2 separate regions of the Homo sapiens genome follow, and region 2 is linked to region 1. Evidence: fine-mapped expression QTL. A gene starts in region 1. The other region holds a variant in brackets. All regions are shown on one strand. Distances are from middle to middle. Region 1 holds the start of PARP9 (poly(ADP-ribose) polymerase family member 9). Region 2 overlaps CSTA (cystatin A).

What was found. PIP is the estimated chance that this variant, and not a neighbour inherited with it, causes the effect.
Region 2: its variant is the best candidate, but not a certain one, in a credible set for the expression of PARP9 in thyroid (GTEx, PIP 0.51).

What each region holds. Positions count from the first base shown.
Region 1 is chr3:122,558,721-122,570,969 of GRCh38, reverse strand. PARP9 (poly(ADP-ribose) polymerase family member 9) reads left to right here and starts at 6,670. Exons shown (of 11, transcript NM_001146105.2): 1 at 6,670-6,725; 2 at 11,261-11,364. The coding sequence starts at 11,350. It overlaps DTX3L (deltex E3 ubiquitin ligase 3L), which reads right to left and starts at 6,632. Exons shown (of 5, transcript NM_138287.3): 1 at 6,357-6,632; 2 at 4,900-5,111; 3 at 946-2,481; 4 at 298-515. The coding sequence starts at 6,543. LOC105374071 (a long non-coding RNA gene) reads right to left here. Exons shown (of 5, transcript XR_001740869.2): 5 at 11,000-11,080. RefSeq lists an enhancer at 6,625-6,744 and a silencer at 6,785-6,884.
Region 2 is chr3:122,337,791-122,350,039 of GRCh38, reverse strand. It overlaps CSTA (cystatin A), which reads right to left. Exons shown (of 3, transcript NM_005213.4): 3 at 8,071-8,601. The coding sequence ends at 8,473. Among named protein-coding and RNA genes, the nearest start is that of CSTA, 19 kb to the right of the region's middle. The variant CTTT/T (reference allele first, on the strand shown) is at 7,770.

The DNA.
Region 1 (12,249 bases):
CCTTCAGATAGACACAACGCCTCAAATTAAATCAGCTTATATAGTATTCATCTCGGATTCAAAAGCCCCCTGTCCTTTGGTGCAAAATTTAAATAACTCCATAGTACTTTATAGCTGGCAGGGTAGAAGTTGATGGGGACCAATCTTTCTGTCTTTGAGATTACCATCCCCGATCAGCAGCTCTCAAAACACCAATTCCACTGCTATAGAGTCTACTTATATCCACATCCAGAAATTGCCGTATTTCATAATCCCTATACTCTGTTGAGCAGCCATTACATCCCAAAAGGATCTCACATTTCTGGTCCTCCAAACCGGGATGTTTTGTGGTGAATATCATTCCAAGTGATGACATCTGAGACTCCTAATACGCGAGAGTACCCCACTGTAAAAATCAGCTTTTGGTCAAAGGCCCTATAAAGCAGTTTCAAAACCTTCCTTCCTTCCTTATTATCAGGCAAGTATGCAGTTCGCTGTATTCCAGGGTATCTCTTTCCTGGGTTTGGGTGTTCTTCCTGTGTGAGAACAAGAAAATGTCATGTGAAAAGAGTGCCCTGTCTAATTTTTACTATAGGTATAGATGTGTTCATTTGTAGATAAAGCAAATCAAAAGCAAGAAAGGTATTGAAGTTATGCTCATATTCCCAATAACTCATATTTCTCCTCTTTCCTTGAATTCATGCTGGAAACACTGTCCACCTTCCTGATACCCCCATCTCAAGATATAATCTCCACCCACCCTTTCTCTGTCTTAAGAAATAGACACAAAAGGTATTTGAATTACCAGCAAACATTGTGACCTTTACCACTATTTCAGTCCCTTGCACATGACCCTGGAGATAATTCCTTGGGAAATCTATTGTCTAATAGGCAACAGGACAGTCTCTTTTGCCCTGGTAATCGTAGCATAGTGGCAAGAAACCCATGGACTTGAGAAATACTTACTGTTTGTATGCCTGCTTTCATAGAATAAGTAATCACAATGGTGCCAAAGGACTCATAACCTGGAAGTGAGTCTCTTGAAACAGTGAAAACCATGCTTCCCTCTGGCTGATTTCCTTTCTGAATACCATAGGAAGTCTGGCATGTGGGACAGATTGGCTTATATGACATGGCTTTGTTGATACAAGGGGCGCAGAATTCATGCTTGCACTTTGGTAGCACTTTTTTGTTACTAATGGTGTCCATACAGATGACACAGATGCCCTTTTCCTTCTTGTCCAGTTCTGAGGCCTCAGAACTCACAGAGCCCTTGAGTGGCGGAGAAGCTGCTTTGGAATCATCGCTATCAATGTCCATCGGTGTTTCATGACCCTCTTTCAATTTCTTTCCAGCCAATGAAGACATTCCTCCTCCTTTTAGAACATACTGCTTCGCCTTTGCAAGGTGATTTGGCAAACCAGTCAAAGTCATTGACTCTTGATTTAGCACAAAGTGTACATTTGGATGTCTTTTTCTAAAGTCATCAGCAAACTTGGTCTGATGTAAGTGCTTTCTCTCCTTGCCCAAAGACTTCAGTAAAAGAACTTCTCTCATCAACTGACATGAGGCATGTTGAAAGGCATCGATGAAACTTGCATAAGCATGCACAGATAGATCTACCTGCCTGTCCTTGGATTCAAACAGAATGCAGGTTTTCTGACCTTTCTCAGAAACCTTGCTGCAAATGTCATACCTTTTTTCGATCTCTGATATCTCCTGTAGTAATTCAGTTTCTAAAAGTTTATAGTGGGCACTATCAACCTCAATTACATTCATCATGTAATTGGCAGCAAATAGTTTCACAGGTATCTTGACAAAAGCTTCAGAGATTTTTTGTTTGGCAGCTGAAATGTCATCTTGGGTCCCAAGGAGAGTTAATTCGCCTCCTTTCTCCTTTATAAGGAGCTTTGTAAACTGGTGATTCAATTCCTGTTTGAATTTATTTGCCTGCTTACTGTCTGCTAAAGAGACACATTCTTGCTTCAGAGGTTCTGTGTTCTTCTGAAATTCACTAGCAAAAGACTCACGAGCTGCTTCCAGGTCACCTGATCGACTTGAGGTGAAATCTAAACAGACCATATTTGGAGAACTCTCCTGGATTTCAATGTTTACACCAAATCTTTTCTCTATTGAGTTGATTTTATCAGGACAGATATATTTAAAGTATTCAAAGTAAGGCAAGGGAACTTCAAAATAGTTGCTTTTTTGTTCTGCCTTGGTTTCTGGTTCAGAAGGAGAAATGCAGCTGTCCCTCTCCTGCTGACTGAGTGGCTTCCTCTCTGTCATTGAAGGGGAAAATTGTTGTTTCTGCTCACTTTCCAGGAACTGCTCACTCAAAAATTGATGTATTCTTTCAATGTCTTGGAAGTCACCACACACCTTCTCAATTCCATCGTGACCTTCCATTTTTCTGATACTAGGGCACAGTGTGGTTATGTATGCCCTCTGCTCTTTGGAGAACAGGTTACAGTTCAGGTCAGCTGTTACAGTAAGAAAGATCTGAAATTTTAAAAGGAACAGGAACAAATAAAACCTCTCAGCATGCAGGCCTACCATCTTCTCTTCAGGAGAATGCATAGAGACTAGAGAAACAACCACTACATCTTTCCCAAGTGGGGGCAACTTCTTTCAAATCCTATTTATTTATTTATTTATTTATTTATTTATTTATTTATTTCAAGATGGAGTTTCACTCTTGTTACCCAGGCTGGAGTGCAATGGCGCGATCTCAGCTCACTGCAACCTCCGCCTCCCGGGTTCAAGCAATTCTCCTGCCTCAGCCTCCTGAGTAGCTGGGATTATAGGCATGTGCCACCACGCCCGGCTAATTTTGTATCTTTAGTAGAGACGAGGTTTCTCCATGTTGGTCAGGCTAGCCTGGAACTCCTGACCTCAGGTGATCCACCCACCTCAGCCTCCCAAAGTGCTGGGATTACAGACATGTGCCACCGTGCCTGGTCTCAAATCCTTTTTAGAGGATACAGCACGCTACATCCCAGAGGTTCTCAGCCCTGTCTGCATATAAGACTCACCTGGCGAATTCAGGGAAAAACAAACCAGCCAAAGCCCAAGCACATCCCCAGAGATTCTGATGTTAACTAATCTGCAGTGGAGCCTGGGCATGAGCATTTCTAAAAGCTCCATGGCCAAGAGATCCGTGTTCTACAACTGCCACTAGCTGTTTGATCTTGGGAACAGCAGTCAAGGGAAGGCACCTGTGCTCTCTGGGCAAGTTGTTGTGGCCCTCACAAAAGTTTGTGAACTTGGAAGGGAGCCATAAAACTGAGGGCAATGGCTTTTCCTATTACTATTTTTTCTCTTCTTCACTCTTCCTCCTTTATTCTTGTTTCAACTAAACACTCGACTGCATGCAAAGTTGTGGACCCTTCTAAACCCTGGCCTTTAGAAGCTCAAATATAAGACACGCCAGGTTAAGATAAAAAGGACAGAGACCAATTGACTGTAATATAAAAGCAAAATTCCTAATGTTTTGTTCCTTCTCAAGGACTTTGCATGTTAAGATCCTTCCTCTAGATCTTCAAAATGTTTCCTGAATCCAGCCATTTCTCACACCTCCATCAAGGCCACCAAAGTGCATGCCATTATCATCTTTCACCTGGCGCACTGCAACCCCTCCTAACCAGGCTCTAACTCTCCATTCTATCCCCTTTCTACGTTCAGTTTTCCAACAGCAGCCAGAGTGACCCTTTAGAAATATAAACCAGATCGCCCTCTCCCCTGGCTCAAAACTATCTGATGAATCCCCTAACATTTTAAGTTAAAAATCCAAAATCCTTACCTTCAGCCCCAAAGGCCTGTCTTCTGGGTACCTTCCCGAGTTCCTAGCACCTCTCTCCATTGCTCACTGCCCTCCCCACCACACTGGCTTCCTTAAAGCTTCTGGGCCTCAAAATGTCAGCTCTTGGGGACTTTGCACCTATGCTTCCCTCTAGGACACTTTCCGCCCAGAAATCCACTTGGCTAGAGATGTCACCTCACTTGAGGTTTTTCCAGACATCCTATTTTAAATGGTGGTTCTGTCACTGTCTGTCACTTATTCTTCTTCCTAGCAGGTATGACTGGCAGACATTTTATTATATATCTATTGTTTACTAATATTGTCTGTTTCTCTCTCTAGAAGGTGCCGTCCCTGGAAGCCGAGTCTGCCATGTTCCTGGCTGCCTCCCCAGCTCCTATAACAGTGCCTGGAACACAGTAGGCAGTGGATATCTATTGTTGAATGAATCTTGTCATCATTCAAGTTTCAGGCCAAACATCACCTCCTCAGTCAAGTTGTCTCTGATTTCTGGTTAGAAGTAGCACCAGGCCAGGTGCAGTAATTCATGACTGTAATCCCAGCACTTTGGGAGGCCAAGGCGGGCAGATCGCTTGAGCCCAGGAATTTGAGAACAGCCTGGGCAACATAGTGAGACTCTGTTTCTACAAAAAAAAAAAAAATTGGCTGGGTGTAGTGGCGCCTATAGTCCTAGCTACTCAGGAGACTGAGGTGAGAGGATCCCTTGAGCCCAGGAGGTCAACTCTGCAGTGAGCCATGATTGTGCCACTGTACTCCAGCCTGGGCGATAAAGTGAGACTCTGTCTTGGGGGGAAAAAAAGAAGTAACACCACCCCCATCTTCCCCTTGCTTGCCCTGGCGCTGTTTCTCTCCAAATAAATAAAATGGTTTTATTTATTTTGTTTACTTGCCTACTGTCTTTCTGTGCATGACCTGGCCCCCAGTATAAGCTGCCTGAGAGCAGGGGCCTTGTCTGTTATATTCATCTCTGTGTCCAGTGCCTAAAACAGTGCCTGGCTCCCATGTACGTGCCCAGCACATGGGTGTTGGATCAATAATACATGAGGCTGGTGACTGGAGAGGAGGCGCAGGCACAGCCAGCTCCTTCTTTCAATACTCACCTTTTGGAGACAGGAATCCACAGCATTAGGAATATGTCCTTCATGTTGATGCATATCACCAGACGGTGTTTCTGCTTGTGATTGTGTCAGTGAAGAAATTTGAGGTCTCGTGTTCTTCTTTATTGAATTTTCAGTGGGTACCAGGAAAATGGGCACAGGTTTTTCGTCAACAAGTATTTGGTGCTCTCCTTTTTTCAACACTCTCTCCTTAGCTTCAGTGGAGACATTAAACACACACATATACACACATAAAAATGGGAGAGATTTCAAGTAATCCTCTCATTCCTGTGTCTGTACTCTGCCCCAGCACCTCCCAGTAAGGCTGCTCCCTGCATCCTGGAATGGTGGGTTGGCGATGGAGAAAGTCGGGGAGCTATTAAGAGCTCTAAAGTGTGCGGATTAAGTTTTACTATAGAAGTGAAAGCTTAATGACAATGGAACATTGTCCACCGATTAAACATCATGTTTCTAAAACTGTCTCCAGTCTCCCCTTTCCTTCTTCCTTCTTTCCCTCCCTCCCTCCCTTCCTTCCTTCTTTTTTTTTTTTTTTTTTTTTTTAGACGGAGTCTCACTCTGTCACCCAGGCTGGAGTGCAATGGTAGGACCTCGTCTCACTGCAACCTCTCTGCCTCCCGAGTTCCAGCGATTCTCCTGCCTCAGCCTCCAGAGTAGCTTGGATTACAGGTGCGCACCACCATGCCCGGGTAATTTTTGTATTATTAGTAGAGACGGAATTTCCCCATGTTGGCCAGGCTGGTCTCGAACTCCTGGCCTCAGGTGATCCACCAACCTCGGCCTCCAAAGTGCTAGGATTACAGGCGTGAGCCACCGCACCCGGCCCAGTCTCCCATTTCAATACTCATTATACAGGTAAGTGACAACAGCAGGAATCAAAAGTGCAGACTCCGAATTTTGTAAATATACATGTGTTTGCTGGCATTCATAAAAAAAGGCAGGAAGGAAATACACCAAATGGTCACATTGTTTATCTTCAGGTTGTTTTCTTTTTTACTCTTTTATTTCTATAGTGAGCATATATCACTTTTGTAATCCTCAAAAACACAAAATGGAACATCCTTTTGTTCATGGATGGAACAATGGAACCATTATTTAAAACATAAAAGTGGAATCCCTGAATGACAAGGACAGCAGCTGGCAGGCATCTGGGGGAAGGAAGATGACAGCTGAGAAATTAAGTTAGAATGAGGATATGGAAAGCATCCACACTAAGGCGCCGTCAGCCAGACCCGCACCAGGCACATGTGAGGCCCCATCCTCCACCGAGTGTTCACTGTCTCAGTGAGTCTCTTGGCAGTAGGGCCCCGTCCCTGTCCGCCACCGCACAGTGACATACTTTCTCCCGCCCTCTCCCCTAGGTCAGCTGGAACTGGGTCCGCCTGGAAACCCGGGGGCCGGGCCCCCAGAGGGCTTTCGCAGCCTGGCCGCCCGAAGCTCACCTGCCCTTTCACTGAACTCCACCCGGAAGGTGCCCGGGGCTTCGTGTTCCTGGGTGCTGACCGTGCACTCCCCGCCGCCCGAGGACTTAGAGCTCTGGAAGTAGCTCTCCAGCTTCCTTCGTACTCGGGGGCCGGACTTGTACACCCGCACGAGGAGCGGGGACGGCGGGCGCAGGTGGGAGGCCATGGCTCTGCGCGTCGGGAGGGCGCGGGGGCTCCGGGAGGCAGCTGGGCGGTAAAGGCGCGGCCCGCCCTGCGGACTGGGCGCAAAGTTTCAGTTTCGCTTCCCTGGAGGTCCCTCCCTGTTCCCGGCAGAGCCGCTTCCCCCTCCTCCCTGTGCTGTCTGCACCGAGGAGAGCGGCCTGCCGGGTGAGTAGGTCCGGTGCCTCTGGGCCCTCGGGGTCCCCTCTCCTGCAGGCTCGAGGTGGGCGGGGAGAAGGGGGACGGGCGCGGACCCGGGTCCCAGGGCCAGGCCTCCCTTGTGAGTAGACTATGCAAAGAAAGTAAGTTTCTCCTGTGTTTCTTATTCTTTGTAACTCTTACTGCTGTTACCACTATTATTTGATCCTAAAAAGTAATTCACATTCTGAATCCATGTTAAACTTACCCATTTTTGAAAATTTGAATGTGTTCATCTGGTAATTGTGACCTGTTACCCCTTCCCTCCCTCCAACTCTACCCTTTAGACGGGCTTCTGCGGGCTTTTCTCCTCCATTGCTTGATTTAACCAACAGCACTGAATTGTTTCTTGCTGCCCAAAGAGCAGAGCAAGGCCCTGATGTCAAGGGCTGGTGAGGGGAGGCGGACCTGTGAACCAAGGAGCAAAACTTCTCCAAGGCCTCCAAGGGGAAGTTTCAAGCAGAATCTTAATAAATTGAGTGTGGCGGCGAGATGGGGAGGACAGGATTGGGGGGAAAAGCACCTGAGGCTTAGGGACCACTGTGGTCTGAAGCACAGAGTGGGCCTGGGGCCTGGGAGGAGAGGAGATGGGTGAGGGGATGAAGGAGGGAGAGCCTACCTAGATGGGCACTGTCCAGCAGAAATACAATGGGAGCCAGTAGGTTCATTCTAAAATTTTTGCAGCCATATTTTTTAAAGGATAAAGAAACAGATGAAATTAATTTTAATGATTTTTAGGAAATTTTTAAAGGATAAAGAAACAGATGAAATTAACTGTAATGATGTTATTTAGCTTGACATATCCAAAACTTAATCATTTCAGCATGTAATGAGATTTTTACATTCTTTTTATCATACCACGTCTTTGCAACCCAGTGTTTTTCTTATACTTACATCACATCTCGATTCAGACTGGCCACATGTAGCCTCAGTAGCTATGTGAGGCTGATAGTCCACCCTGGACAGGACATATTTAGATGGTGAAAAGCCTTGAAGAGCAGTGAAGATGACCTGAAGGGCTTTAAGCAGGGAAAGCAAGAAAATGACTTGCCAGATTTGCATTTTAGAAATATGGTGCTGACAACCGTGTGGAGGACACATTTACAAGCAGGGATGAGTGGCGGCAGAGAGGCCTGAGATAAGGTTTTTGCACATGGCTGGTAAGACTGGAAATGGGCCCGTCTTTACTGTGAACAATTTGGCAATACTGTCAGAATTACAACTGCATATACTTTTTGGTTCTGGAGTTCCATTTCTAGGAATTTGTCCCATTGATATATTAGCCCCTGTGTGAAGTGACCTGTGTACAAAGATGTTCTTTACAGCCTTGTTTACAATAGCAAAAGATAGGGAACTCTTTAATGCCCATAAATAGGGGGACTAGCAGTTTAATAATAATAGTATATCTATACAATGGAATACAATGGGCAGTAGGAAAAATGAAAAAGCTCTCTATGTGCTAACATGAAAAGATCTCTAGGATACATTATGTGGGAAAAATAAGATGCAGAAGTGTGTGTATAAGCTACTACCTTTCGTGTAAAAAATGCCACTGGAAGAATACAGGAGAAGCGCTGATTGACTCTGGACAGGGAATTTAGCAGCGGAGACAGGAGGAAACCTTTTACATTTTCTAAATTTGAACCATGTAAATGTAATACCTATTCAAACAATAAAATGTCAAACTAGGTACATTTAAATCTTTGAAAAGAGTATATTGATGGCTGGGCGCGGTGGCTCACGCCTGTAATCCCAGCACTTTGGGAGGCCAAGGCAGGCGGATCATGAGGTCAGGAGATCGAGACCATCCTGGCTAACATGGTGAAACCCCGTCTCTACTAAAAAAAATACAAAAAAAAAAAAAATTAGCCAGGCGTGGTGGTGGGCGCCTGTAGTCCCAGCTACTAGGGAGGCTGAGGCAGCAGAATGGCGTGAACCCGGGAGGCGGAGCTTCCAATGAGCCAAGATCGCGCCACAGCCTGGGCGACAGAGTAAGACTCCGTCTCAAAAAGAAAAGAAAAGAAAAGAAAAGAAAAGAAAAGAAAAGAAAAGAAAAGAGTATATTGCCACAGCTCAGGCAAAAGTTGCTGAGACTCTGAAGTGAGGCAGTGTCAGTGGGCGAGGAAGGAAGGGGCATATTTGAAAGTGATTTAGTTTGTCAGGTCCCAGATATGAGACAAAAAAGACTCAGGGAAAGTTCCTAGATTTCTGATTTGAGTACGTAAATGGTATTATCATTTACTGAGCTGTAGAATCCAGGAGATAAAGTATGGATTTGGTGGGGGTGGGATGGAGGATTGGGGACCAGGAGATAAGAGGTCTACTTTTGCAGAGGCTAATTTGAGGGGACTGTGAGACCTCCAGGTGGAGTTGAAAAATGGGGCTCAGGAGAGCCATGGCCTAGAACTGCAGATATAAGAGTCATATTTGCAATTGGTGAGTTGAAGCCATGGAAATGGATGAGATCACTCCTGGGGAGTATGCAGAATGAGATGAAAAACGCCTTAGACAGAATCCTGGGGCAAACAATTAAGAGGGAGATGGTGGAAGTGAACGCAGGGAAAAGGCCTGTAAAGGCAAAGTGAAGGGTAATAGAAGAACCAAGGGAAGATGGCATAGGAGAAGCCAGGAAAGCAGAATTTCAGGAATCAAAGAGTGAAATACTATAGAAAGTGGTCCAGTAAAGATGGATAGAAGATAATCCATTGGCATTAACCACATGAGGGATTCTGATGAGCAGTTTCTCTTCTTTTTTTTGAGACAGGGTCTCATTCCTCTTGCCCAGGCTGGAGTGCAGTGGCACAATCACAGCTCACTACAGCCTGAACTTCCCACCAAGTGATCCTCCCATCTCAGCCTCCCAAGTAGCTGGGACTATAGGCATGCACCAACATGGCCAGCTAACTTTTTGTATTTTTAGTAGAGATGAGGTCTTGCCATGTTGCCCAGGTTGGTCTCGAACTCCTGAGCTCAAGCAATCTGCCTGCCTCTGCCTCCCAAAGTGCTGTGGTTACAGGTGTGAGCCGCCATGCCTGGCCACTGGCAGTTTCAAAAGGGTGCTGGGAATGAGGCAGGGAGCCAGGTTATAGTAGGCTGAGTGGGCAGGTGGACAGAAGGAGAGTCCACTACTCATTCCAGAAGTTTGGCTGCTTATGAAGAGAAGGAAACACAGTAGGAACCAGTGATGGAAAGTTGGGAAGGCTTTTCTGTTTTTAAAATGGAAGAAATGGAATGCTTAGGGCACTATGCTCCTTGTTTGGCTATCCATAGGCCTGTAAAACTTGGCCTGAAGACAGAAACAGGTGCAACATTTAAAGCAAAAGCCCATGGCCAAAGCAGATGAAGTCATCCTTCTTTTTTGAAAACAGCAGTGCCCTCTGGAGGCAAAAAATGCATCTTGTCTTTGCATTTTAGAATGCAAAGGATTGTACTAGACCTGCTGCTTTCCCTTGATGAGTAAGAATAGTGCTCTGATGCTGTAGATGGTTGTACAAAATGTTTCTATTGCAAAGACATTAGAAATCATTTCGACCAGGCGCGGTCGCTCACGCCTGTAATCCCAGCACTTTGGGAGGCCGAGACGGGTAGATCACGAGGTCAGGAGATTGAGACCGTGCTGGCTAACACGGTGAAGCCTCATCTCTACTAAAAATACAAAAAATTAGCTGGGCGTGGTGGCGGGCGCCTGTAGTCCCAGCTACTCAGGAGGCTGAGGCAGGAGAATGGCGTGAACCCAGGAGGCGGAGCTTGCAGTGAGCCAAGATCGAGCCACTGCATTCCTGGGGGACAGAGTGAGACTCCAACTCAAAAAACAAAAAAACAAACAAAAAAACAAACAAAGAAATCATTTCGAGGCCTAAATATAGCAACAAGTGTGGGCAACTGTATCTTTAAGCATTTTCATCATCAGTCTTCTAAAAATTCATAATCTTTAATTCCTACCTATTAGATGGAAAATCATAACAAAGTATTTTTCCCAGATTTTCTGACTTTTAACCAGATATACCCCTATCATTAGGTCAAGGATGTTTATCACAAATTCAATAATACACCCCCCTCACAGGCTCTAGTGGCATTTCCTCTTTCTTCAAACGCTCTCCAGGGGGCTTCACTCACTCATAAGCTCGGTCTTCTTTACTGTTCTTTGAATGCTGTTCTCAGTCTCACCACTTTGTTATCACCCTCTTCTTCTAAATATGTAAAAACCTCCTGCATCCTTCATGACCAGGCTCTAGTCTCAACTCCTCCATATAGCTTTTCCTGTTCCAGGTCGTAGAGCATTTTCCCTTCTCTGAACTGCCATTATGATTTCCACTGGAACCTCTCTTGGAAAGGGTAGAAGGCAAACAGTAACAACAACAGCAAAACAATGTGTACATCGTTATCAAGGAAATTAAGAACTCATCAAGATCAGAAATCATGTTCAGTCCTCCTACAGTATATTCTTACCGAATTTCCTAAGATTCTGGCTAATGTTTATTGCATCTTTTCTAATTCATTCCTAGAAGTGGGCCACCATATCTGGAAACTACAGTCTATGCTTTGAAGCGCAAAAGGGAATAAACATTTAAAGACTCCCCCGGGGACCTGGAGGATGGACTTTTCCATGGTAAAAAGCATAAATGTGTATACGTCATGAACCTTGATCAGCACATGAATACTTCTTTATATAACAGCAAGAAATCTGGGGTGTTCACCAACAGTTGACATCCTCATCTGCTTTTAATAGCTCAATAAAGTTTTCTCCTTTCTCCCTTCTTGAGAAATGGGGAATCAAGAATATGCTAATCTAATAAATAGTGTCAACTTGAAGCTGGATGATTTTTCAGAATCATTTTAATTCTCAGCTCATTTAGTGATTCTGCTTTTTCGGGTTGGGGTAAGGAGAGTAATAGAGGATGAATGAAAAGAAGGGAATAGAGAAAGATCAGATTAGAAGTCACTTACTAAACTTGAAAATTCCACATTAAGGTTTGTACCATGACAAAGGCAATTAAAAGTGGATCCTTGCTGGTGGATGAGAGACAGAGCTGATGAGGCTCATGTCCCCAGGTCTTCTGTCTAGAGAAACCCCATGAGCTTTTGGAGATTGGAGTCTATCTGAGAGTTTGGGGTCATTTTGGTCTGTGACTTTTGGGCCTTTTAAAGTGTTGATCTCTAAACCTCATCTCATTCTGAATTAGAATGAGATGCACTGAGATGCATTGGCGGTGGCTGGCGCCTATAATCCCAGTTACTACAGAGGCTGAAGCCAGGAGGATCACTTGAAATCAGTAGTTCGAGACCAGCCTGGTCAACATAGCAAGACTCCGCTCATCTCTAAAAAAGTAAAAACAATTAGCTGGGCATGGTGGTGCATGCCTGTAGTCCCAGCTATTCAGGAGACTGAGATGGGAGGATTGCTTCAGCCCAGGAGTTCAAGGCTGCAGTGAACTGTGATTGCACCACTGCACTCCAGCCTGGGTGACAGAGTGAAACCTTGTCTCGAAAAACA
Region 2 (12,249 bases), 220 kb after region 1:
TTTTATATGACAGGCGGCAAGGTAGGTTTGTTTACACCAGCATCACCAAAAACATGTGAGTAATGTATTGCATTAAGTTTTTACTATGGCTACGATGTCACTAGGTGATAGGAATTTTTCAGCTGCATTATAATTTTATGGGACCCCATTGTATATGTGGTCTGTCATTGATGAAAACATCATTATGGCAGTGCATGAGTGTCATTCTCTTTGCATAGGTTTTGTATGTCCCTTATTAGATTAATTTTTAAGCGTGTGATGTATTTAGACTTTCCACCCCAAAATCAGGTTAAAGTAAATCTAATCACCCTAATTATGGTGTTTCCTATATCTTTAATCAACTGCTCTGTGTATACAGCTACCCATGTGTGTGTGTCTATGTTTTTGCATTGCTCAGAAAAGAATTCTTATTACTGGGCCAGTAGAGTTGTCTCTAGTTGTTCTTGTTACCTAAGAGCTCCAGAGTGCTAATACTAGTCAGCCAGTGGAGATCTTTTAGTTCACTTATTGACTGTTTATGTGCTAGGAGCTGAAGGCAGATGAATAGGATAGCTTCTCCATTCTGAGGCATTAAGAGTTAGTAATGGTTATTTAAAAACAACCAGTGTTTCAACACTCCCTTACGTATCTGCTTCAAGGGGTCAGAATAGCTGAGGGAAGGAATTCTGAGCATATGTTAGTAGAGTGTAGGGGTAGAGTATTGGCCCTGGAGGCAAACAGCCTGGGATCACATCCTTACTTCTCTACTAACTAGTCAGGTGGCCTTGCACAAGTAATTTCACCTCTCTATACTCAGTCTTCTGTAAAGAGAGGATAGCAATAATATTTACCTCATGAGATTGTTATAAAAGTTAAATAAGTTTTATTTGTAAAGTCTTTGGAACACTACCTAGACTATGGTAAGCATTTAATATATATTAGCTATTATTATTATTTGGGACAGAGGATTGGCAAGTGGCATTAATGGGGTGATGAGCAGAGTGCAGAGCCCAGAGGGAGACTTTAGAGCAGGGGTGTCCAATCTTTTGGCTTCCCTGGCCACATTGGTAGAAGAATTGTCTTGGGCCCCACATAAAAGACACTAACTCTAATGATGGCTGATGAGCTAAAAAAAAACACAAAACTCATAATGTTTTAAGAAAGTTTACGAATTTGTGTTGGGCTGCATTCAAAGCCGTCCTGGGTGCCTGTGGGTTGCGGGTTGGACAAGCTTGCTTTACAACATCTTTTTTTTTTTTTTTTTTTTAGAGACAGGATCTTGCTCTCTCACTCAGGCTGGAGTGCAGTGGTGCAATCATAGCTCATTGCAACCTCAAAATCCTGTGCTCAAGCAATCCTCCTGCCTCAGCCTCACAAGTAGCTACAGGTGCATACCACCACACCAGGTTCGAGCAATTTTTTTTTTCTTTTTTTTTTGGGATAGAGTCTCACTCTGTAGCCAGGCTGGAGTGCAGTGGTGCAATCTTGGCTTACTGCAACCTCTGCCTCCTGGGTTCAAGCGGTTCTCCTGCCTCAGCCTCTCGAGTAGCGGGACTACAGGCGCACGCTACGACGTCCAGCTAATTTTTGTATTTTTAGTAGAGACAGGGTTTCACCATGTTGGCCATGATGGTCTCTATTCTTGACCTCATGATCCTCCCACCTTGGCCTCCCAAAGTGCTGAGATTACAGGCGTGAGCGACTGCACCTGGCCCCGGCTCGAGCATGTTTAAGACAAGTTTTCTCTTCACTTTGCCTCTCTCATTCTCTCCTTTTCCTTTACTCTCCCCTCCACTTCCTCTTCCTCTCTCCTTCCCTAACAATTTAGCCCCAAATCCATTAAGTAGGGCCAAGGAGAGCAGATATTGGTTTTGGATGGTCTGAAACTAGATGTTGGAGTTGGCTTCTCCATGGGTAGGTGCCCACCCACCATGGTGGAGCATAGCTGGCATGGAGAGGGCAGGTATTTACATAGGGGGATAGTGGCAGTGGTCCAGGACAGGATATAAGAGACTGAGCATTGGGGGGCAGATGAGGGGGTGAGGACGGTGGAGGTGGGAGTCACAAGGGTAGGCGACAGGAGCAAGGATGGAAGACTTTACAAATACGTAGAAATTAAACAGCATACTCCTAAATAATCAATGGGTCACAGAAGAAATCAAGAAAAAATCAAAAGGAAAATTAGAAAGTACTTTGACATGAATGAAAATAAACAACATACCAAAACTTATGGAATGCAGCTAAAGCAATGCTTAGAGGGAAATTTATAGCTGTCAACACTTATGCCAAAAAAGATAATATCAAATCAATAACCTAACCTTTTACCTTAAGACACAGAAAATAGAAGATCAAAGTCAACCCAAAGCAAGCAGAGGGAAAGAAATAATAAAGATTAGAGTAGAAATTAATAAAATAGAGAATAGAAAAACACTACAGAATATTATTGAAATAAAAGTTGTTTTTTCGAAAAGATGAACAAAGTTGACAAACCTACAGGTAGACTAAGAGCAAAAAGAGAATACTCAAATTACTAGAATCAGAAATGAAAGGTGAGACATTAATATTGATGTTACAGAAATGAAAGGATTATGAAGGAATACTATGAACAATTGTATGCCAATAATAGATAACATAGATAAAATGAACAATTCCTAGAATAACACATACTACCAAAACTGACTCAAGAAGAAACAGTGAACCTAAATAGACCTATAATAAGTTTGGATATTGAATTAGTAATAAAAAAAGTTCCCACAGAGAAAAGCCCAGGCCCAGATGGCTTCACTGCTGAATTCTACTAAAGGTTTAAAGAAGGCTGGGCACAGTGGCTCACACCGGTAATACTAGCATTTTGGGAGGCCAAGGTGGGTGGATCACTTGAGGTCAGGAGTTTGAGACCAGACTGACCAACATGGTGAAACCCTGTCTGTACTGAAAAAATATAAAAATTAGCCCAGAGTGGTAGTGAGCACCTGTAATCCCAGCTACTTAAGAGGTTGAGGCAGGAAAATCACTTGAACCCAGGAGATGGAGGTTGCAGTGAGCCAAGATTGGCCAGTGCGCTCCAGCCTGGGCAACAGAGTGAGACCATTTCTCAAAAAAAAAAAAAAAAAAAAAAAGGTTTAAAGAAGAATTAATACCAATTCACCAATTCTACCAAAACCAGACAAAGGTGTCACAAGAAAACTATAGACAGGGTGGACATGGTGGCTCATGCCTGTAATCCCAATGCTTTGGGAGGCAAAGGAGGGTGGATCACCTGAGGTCAGGAATTCGAGACCAGGTTGGCCAAGATGGTGAAACCCTGTCTCTACTAAAATACAAAAATTAGCCGGGCGTGGTGGTGCATGACTGTAGTCCCAACTCCCGACTACTCAGGAGCTTAAGGCAGGAGAATCGCTTGAACCTGAGAGACAGAGGTTGCAGTGAGCCAAGATTGTGCCACTGCACTCCAGCCTGGGTGACAGAGCAAAACGCTGTCTCAACAACAACAACAACAAGAAAACTGTAGACCAATATCTCTTATGAATATAAATGCAAAAATCCTCAACAAAATTCTAGCAAACTGAATGTAGCACGTCTAAAAATAATTATATACCATGACCATACGGGGTTTATTCCAGAAATGCAAAGTTGGTTTCATATAAAAAATCAATATAATATACTATATCGATAGAGTAAAAAACAAAACCACATCACTGTTTCAACAGATGCAGAAAGAGCATGTAATAAAATCCAATGTCCTTTCATAATAAAAATGAGCTAGAAGGAAACTTTCTTTTTTTGAAACAGGGTCTCACTTTGTCACTGGAGTGCAGTGGCATAATCTTGGCTCACTGCAGCCTCAACCTCTGGGTTCAAGTGATTCTCTGGCCTCAGCTCCCCAAGTAGCTGGGACTACGGGCGTGTATTACCATGCCCAGATAATTTTTGTATTTTTCGTAGATACAGGATTTCACCATGTTACCCAGGCTGGTCTCTAACTCCTGAGCTCAAGTGATCTACCCACCTCGGCCTCCCAAAGTGCTAAGGTTACAGGTGTGAGCCACCACGCTTAGCCTTGAAGTAAACTTTCTTAACTTAATACAAGGCATCTATGAAAACTCCACAGCTAACTTTTTACTAAAGGATAAAAAAATTATATGTTTTCCTCCTAAGATCAGGAACAAGACAAGGATGCCTGCTCTCATCACTTCTATTCAGTTTTATATTGAAGTTTCTCACCAGTGCAATTATGCAAGAAAAAAAAAGTATCCAGGTTAGAAAGGGGGAAATAAAACTGCCTCTATTTGCAATGATATGGTCTTGTATATAGAAAATTCTAAAGAATCCACCAATACACAAGGTCATCAAGGTTAAAAAATATAAAATCAATGTACAAAAATCAATTGTATTTCTATAAACTTGCAATACATAAGCCAAAAAATCTCATTTATAATAGCATCAATAAGAACAAAATATTTGGGAATGAATTTAACAAAAAAAGTACAAAATATATACTCTGAAAACTAAAAACAATTGTTGAAAGAAATACAGATAGAAATAATTGGGAAAACATCTTATGTTCATGGATCAGAGGCTTAATATTGTTAAGATGGCAGTATTACCCAAACTTATCTACAGATTCAGCATAATCTCTATGAAAATCCTAGCTGACTTCTTTGTAGAAATTTATAAGCTGATTCTAAAATTCATGTGGAAGTTCAAAGAATTCAGAAGAGCCAAAAAACTCTTGAAAAGGAAGAGCAAAGTTGGAAGGACTCACACTTCACAATTGTAAAACTTATTACAAGGCAACAGTAATCAAAAAAGTGTAGTACTGACAAAAGGATAGATATATAGATTAATGGAATAAAATTGAGAGTTGAGAAATTAACTCGTGCCTGTGATCAACTGATTTTCAACAAGGGTGCCAAGATAATTCGATGGGGTAAAGAAATCTTTTCAACCAATGGTGCTAAGATAACTAGATAGCCACATGCAAAAGAATGAAGTTGGACACTTACCTCACACCATATACAAAAATTAACTCAAAAGGGACAAACGACCTAAATGTAAGAGCTAAAGCTACATATCACTTAGAAGAAAACAGGGGAGTAAATCACTATGAGTTTGGATTTGGCAAAGGATCCTTAGTTATGATACCAAGAGCATGAGGAGCAAAAAGATAAATAGATAATTTGGACTTCATTAAAATTAAAAACTTTTGTGCTTCAGAGAATGCCATCAAGAGATTGAAAAGATAACCACAAAATGAGAAGAAAGTATTTGCAAATCATATATCAGATAAGGGGCCTGTATTCAGAATATATGCTGTGGTTTGAATATTTGACTCCTTCAAAACTGATGTTGAAACTTAATCCCCAATGTGGTACTATTGAGAGGTGGGGCCCTTAAAAGATGATGGAATAATAAGGGCTCTGCCCTCATGAATGGCTTAATCCATTCATGGATTAATGGATTAATGGGTTATCATGGGAGTGGGGCGGGTGGCTTTGTAAGAAGAGGAAGAGAGACCTGATCTATCATGCTCAGCCCCCTCGCCATGTGATGATGCTTGTGCTGCCTCAGGACAGGACTCTGCAGAGAGTCGCCACCTGCAAGAAGGCTCTCACCAGATGTGGTCCCTCAACTTTGCACTTCTTTTTTTTTGAGACAGGGTTTCACACTTGTTGCCCAGGCTGGAGTGCAATGGCACGATCTTAGCTCACTGCAACCTCTGCCTCCTGGGTTCAAGTGATTCTCCTGCCTCAGCCTCCCAAATAGCTGGGATTACAGGCATGCACCACCACTCCTGGCTAATTTTTTGTATTTAGTAGAGATGGAATTTCACCATGTTAGTCAAACTGGTCTCAAACTCCTGACCTCAGGTGATCCACCCACCTCGGCCTCCCAAAGTGCTGGGATTACAGGCATGTGCCACTGTGCCTGGCCCTCAGCTTTGGACTTCTCAGCCTCCATAACTGTAATAAATAAACTCATTTTCTTTATAAATTACCCAGTTTCAGATATTCTGTTATAAGCAACAGAAAATGGACTAAGACAGGTAATTATGTTTTTTGTTATTATTTTTAAATGGCAAAAACTACACTAACTTTTGCATCAGCCTAATACAAATGGCTAATCATCTCATGAAAAGATGTTCAATAGCATTAGTCATCAGGGAAATACAAATCAAAACCACAATGAGCTATTATTTCACATCCACTAAGATGGCTAACCTTAAAAAAATTCAGATAATAACAAGTGTGGGTGAGGATATGGAGAAAATGGAACTCTCATCCACTGTTGGTGAGAATGTAAAATGGTGTGACCACTTCAGAAAACCGTCTGTAAGTTTCTCAAACAATTAAACATAGAGTTAGTTACCGTATGAACCAGCAATTCTACTCCTAGGTATATACCCAAGAGAAATGAAAACCTATGTACACACAAAACCTTGTACACAAATATTTATAGTAGCAGTGTTCCTGATAGTCAAAAGGTGAAAGCAACTTAAATATCTGTCAACTGATTAGTTAATAAACAACGTGTGATATATTGATAAAATGGAATATTTGTCCATAAAAAGGAATAAAATACTGAGACGTGCTACAACACTGATGAATTTTGAAAACTATGTTAAGTGAAGGAAGGCAGTTACAAAGGACCACCACATATTATATAATTCCACATGTATGAATGTCCAGACCAGGCAAATCTAGACAGTAAATTAGTTGTTGCTTAGGAGTTGAGTTGTTGCTTATGTGTGGAGGAGGCTGGGGAAGTGACAGCTAACAGGTATGAGACTTCTTTTTGAGGTGACGAAAATGTTCTAAAATTTTGTGAGGTCTGCACGCATTTGTGAATGTGGTATAAAACTATTCACTTGTACACTTTAAATGGGTAAGTTGTATGTTTCAATTTATGTCTCAATGAAGGTATTAAATAAGAGGAAAATGGCAATTAAATGGAGCAAGTTATTTTGGATTGGATCTTTTTTTTGGGATGGGGTCTTGCTATGTTGCCCAGGCTGGCATGCAGTGGCTACTCATGGGCACGATCATTGCACACCATAGCCTTGAACTCCTGGCCTCTAGAGGTCCTCCTGCCTCTGCCACCTGAGTAGCTAGGACTACAGGTGCTTGCCACCTCACCTGGCTTGGATCTTTTTGTAATAAATGACATTATTGGGACAATTGGGGTAATTTGAATGGTGTCTGGGGATTAGATGCTACCAGTGTATCAGTGTTAATTTCTTAATTGTTTAATTTTATTTTTAATTTTTTTTTTTTAGAGACACGGTCTCTCTTTGTCACCCAGGCTGGAGTGCAGTGGCATGAGTATAGCTCACTGTAGCCTCGAATTCCTGGGCTTAAGCCATCCCCCCACGTCAGCCTCCCAAGTAGCTAGGACTACAGGTGCATACCACCATGCCCAGCTAATTTCTAATTTCTTTTTGTAGAGACATGGTCTCGCTATGTTGCCCAGGTTTGTCTTAAATTCCTGTCCTCAAGCAATCCTGCTGCCTTGGCCTACCAAAGTGCTGGGATTACAGGCGTGAGCCACTGCGACCTGGCAATTTCCTGATTTTGATGGTTGTATTTCAGTTTTGCAGGAGAATATCCTTGTTTGTAGGAAATGCACACTGAAGTATTTGTTGATGATGGGGCATCATGGTAAGTAACTTAGTCTCAAATGTCCAGGAAAAAAAGTGGGTTTTTTTTTTTTGCAACTTTTCTCTATGTTTAAGTTTGTTTCAGAATAAAAATATAGACTGGGCAAGGTGGCTCACACCTGTAATCCCAGCA[CTTT/T]GGGAAGCCAAGGCGAGCAGATCACCTAGGGTCAGGAGTTCGAAACCAGCCTGGCCAACATGGCAAAACCCTGTCTCTACTAAAAATACAAAAATTAGCTAGGCGCAGTGGTAGGTGCCTGTAATCCCAGCTACTTGGGAGGCTGAGATGGGAGAATCGCTTAAACCTGGGAGGTGGAGGTTGCAGTGAGCCGAGATCACACCATTGCACTCTAGCCTGGGTGACAGAACGAGACTCTGTCTCAAAAAAAAAAAAAAAAAAAAAGTATATATATACACACACACACACACACACACACTTTGTAAAATACTTGATTTAATTTTGAAGTATGAGGGTAGAGATGGAATGTTGGGTTATCAGCAGCCACAGGGAACAAGGAGGCTGGTGAATTGATAGTCCACGATCCAGCCTGCCTATGGTGGGGGTGAGGGTGGTACTATCCTTTAGCCAGTTGCATTAGGCTTGACTAGTTTTTATAAGATTTCCAATTGCCATCAATTTATATGGAGTTTATACTCTAAAGCAATAACACTGATTTTGAGAAAGAAAAGGTAATTTCTGCTTAATACAATAAATGAGAAATAATTGAAGAAATAATTTCTTTGGAAAAGAATGCTTCTTTATTGATGGTTATATTTATCAGCAAGGATCATGACTCAGTAGCCAGTTGAAGGAATCAGAACACTTTGGGTACATGCTGCTAAAAGCCCGTCAGCTCGTCATCCTTGTTTTTGTCAACCTGGTATCCAGTAAGTACCAAGTCCTCATTTTGTCCGGGAAGACTTTTGAATACTTTCAAGTGCATATATTTATTATCACCTGCTCGTACCTGAAAAATATTAAAGAAAGAGAAAGCAAAAGGAGATTCATTCAAATGGGTCTACATCAAGTGAGAGAGCCACAGGTCTACAAAGACTTCTGTCCAAAAAGCTGCTGAGGAACAGCATTGCTAGACCTAGTCCACCATTCTTAGACTCTTTGTATTCATAAATCCACCACCTTATTTTAGGAGAAAAAGAGCAGACTAGGCTGGGTGCCGTGGCTCCCACCTGTAATCCTAGCACTTTGGGAGGCTGAGGCAGGGGGATCACGAGGTCAGGAGTTCAAGACAAGCCTGGCCAGCATGGTGAAATCCCGTCTCTACTAAAAATACAAAAAATTAGCCGGGCATGGTGGTGCATGCCTGTAATCCCAGCTACTCTAGAGGCTGAGGCAGGAGAATCACTTGAACCCAGGAGGAGAAGGTTGCAGTGAGCCGAGATCATGCCACTGTACTCCAGCCTGGGTGATAGAGCAAGAGTTTGTCTTAAAAAAAAAAAAAAATTGTAGACTAATGGCATGGCAAGAGGCATAGGTCCTAGGTTTATTTTGTTATTTTTTTTAGTATAATCTGGGCACAAAGGACAGCATTTTATTTTCAAAGATGCATGGAGCAAGAAAACAAGTGATAGCCTATATTTTTGGTGATACTGTTTTCTGACTCTCAACTTGGGACACTTTGTTTGCCATACAGTCTGATAAGGGAGAAGAAAATCAGAATTGCCCTAGAAAATTTGGGATGCAGGGTTCCCATACCTATATCAGAACCTACTTTATAAACACCCACTGGTAGGATTGAGCAGAGCCCAGGGGGCGGACACCCTCCCTTCTAAAGTGAAGGGGCCAGCCGGGCACTGTGGCTCACGCCTATAATCCCAGCACTTTGGGAGGCCAAGGTGGGTGGATCACCTGAGGTCAGGAGTTTGAGACAAACCTGGCCAACATGGTGAAATCTGGTCTCTACTAAAAATACAAAATTAGCTGGGTGTGGTGGTGCACATCTGTAATCCCAGCTACTTGGGAGGCTGAAGCAGGAGAATCGCTTGAATCCGGGAGGTGGAGGTCGCAGAGAGCCGAGATTGTGCCACTGCACTCCAGCCTGAGTGACAGAGTGAAACTCCGTCTCAAAAAAGAAAAGAAAAAAAAAAGCTAAGGGGTTTTACTAGGAAGTCATTGGTAGGAAGGTTGAAGCAGAAGCAGTAGTTTGGACATGAATCTGAGACCTGGAAAATTATGGTAAGAATTTTTACTTTGGTTCTTGCTGGAGACAATAAATGCTTTGTCTTATACAAATATTTATTGTGCTTCTGATGTCACTTCCTATCCTAATTTTAACAAATGCCATATATCAAATGTTTACTGTGAGCCAGACACTATGATGAACATTTTATATAAATGATTATATTAACCTATATTATAGGCCTGAAGAAAAGTGGAGCAATGAAATTTTTACAGACGTGGAAGCAGAGTAGGAGAGATTAAGTGATTTTCCATAAATCTCTCAGCTAGTCAGTGGCACAGCCAATATTCAAACCCAGATCTGTTAGCCTCTAGCATCTACATTCTTTTCACTCTACAATGTAACATTTTTGGGGGGTACTGATCGGGGAATGAGGCCTGGCTCACAGTGCAGTGGTGCGATCGCAGCTCACTGCAACCTCAAACTCCTCGGCTCAAGTGATCCTCCTACCTCAGCTTCCCAAGTAGCTAGGACTACTGGTGTGCATCACCATGCCTAGGTAATTAAAACATTTTCTTTGTAGAGGCAGGGTCTTGCTATGTTGCCCAGAATGATCTCAAACTCCTGGCTTCAAGCTATCCTCCCACCTTGGCCTCCCAAAGTGTTCGGATTACAGGTATAAGCCACCACACCAGGCCAGTGTAACCTTGTAAAAGCTCTTATTTTGTGCTTTATATTAGAGGCAGCACAGCCAGTAGTTAAGCTCAGTCTATCTGGGTTCAAATCCTGACTCTGCTCTTGTAGTTGTGTGATCTTTTTAGTTTCTTCACCACCCTGGAACTCAGTTTTTTCGTTGGTAACCCAAGAGAAGTGATTGTACTTATCTCATAGATTTGTTGTGAGGATTAAATGAGATAAGCCCTGTTCTTAGAATAGTGCATAGTGAATTATAAGTGCTCAATAAATTTCCAGCTTATTTATTCCTCACAACACGCTGCGAAGTAGATTATTACCCTCATTGTGCAGATAAGGGAATGAAGGCTCAGAGAGGAGGAGGAGCTTCCCATAGAACAAATTGAACAAGGGTTCAAACCCAGGACACTCTGACACCTAAGCTTGTGGTCCTTCCATTCTACCACCTACCTCTTGATAGGTACTTGAAATACATAGAGAAGGTCACATCACTGGCAAGACCTTAAATCTAGAGTGCCTCAGAGCAAAGGGATCAACAGCCAGACTACCAGGAAGTAAAAGGGAACTGGGATCGGTGGCTGAGATCCAGTAGGAAAAGTTTGATAGCAGAAGGAAGAAAAGATGAGAGAGAGAGAGGAGACTGATTAAGAGAGGGCAAAAGGGTGGTCAAGGGAACAAATTTTCAAGCAGAAATTTTCAAGATAGTTATCTGATGAACTGTTGAAGAAACATGTGAGCTGGTAATATGTGAAATTTATGCATTTGAATTAATCATAAATTATTAAATATGTTAATGTTGATGGAATGTTTCCTATCTTTGCACATAATCATTTTTAACTGGAAAACTTTCTTTTCCAGCCATGAAGAAAGCAGATTGAGAATGGAGGAAATGGTGCCATTGTTTTCTGAGGATACAGCAGGGTCCTCTTTCACATGTGTCTCCCCGGGACCTGGTCGTTACTAGGAGCTCACATTTGGCAGAACAGGGCTGATCTGTGTACATAGCTCTGTACTGAAACTTTCTTATGCTGAGCTGACTAGCTCCACTTACTTCACTTACTTTTTTTTTTTTTTTTGCTGAAAAAATCTTTTAAAATGTTTATATTTTAATAGAAATATTTGTTAAAGAGAAATAAGCCACACTGTGCCCTGGTCAAATAGTGAAGTAAAGATTAAGTAAATATACTTGAATATTTGTTTTTATTTTTAAAATCAGCATTATCATCTTCTTAATATATAAGGACAAACATGGCTCTCAAATATTCATGGTTGACTTGTTCAACTGGTTTCCTCTTGATAACTTCAATTAGAACTCGATCAATGCATTGTGTAATTTTTTGACAGAGCTATAAAATTAACTTTTAAACTATTTTAAATACTCCACTCTTTTAAACTATGCCTAGAGTGCCACAAGTTAAATCTAATTTGAGTTACAAAATAGTATTTACATTATATTAATTGAAGGGCAAAAAAGGTTTAAATTATTTTCCCAGCTAATGATTTGAGTCGTTACTTTAATTTATTTAATTTAGACATAGAGAATCATACAGCTTTGAGGTAGAATCAGCTTCAAGATACCATGTGGTCCAGCCCCACACCTTCAGGCAGATGAGACGTGATCCTCCCTCCTTACCTAAGCAGCAGCACAGCCACAAATCCAGCATGCCCTGAACTGTTATGAAATCTTTTTCTATACAATTTCCAGAAATCAAGAATCAATGTAATAAAACTTTCTGAATTCACAAGAAAAAAAATGGTGTCACATCATCTACCAAATTTGAGAGT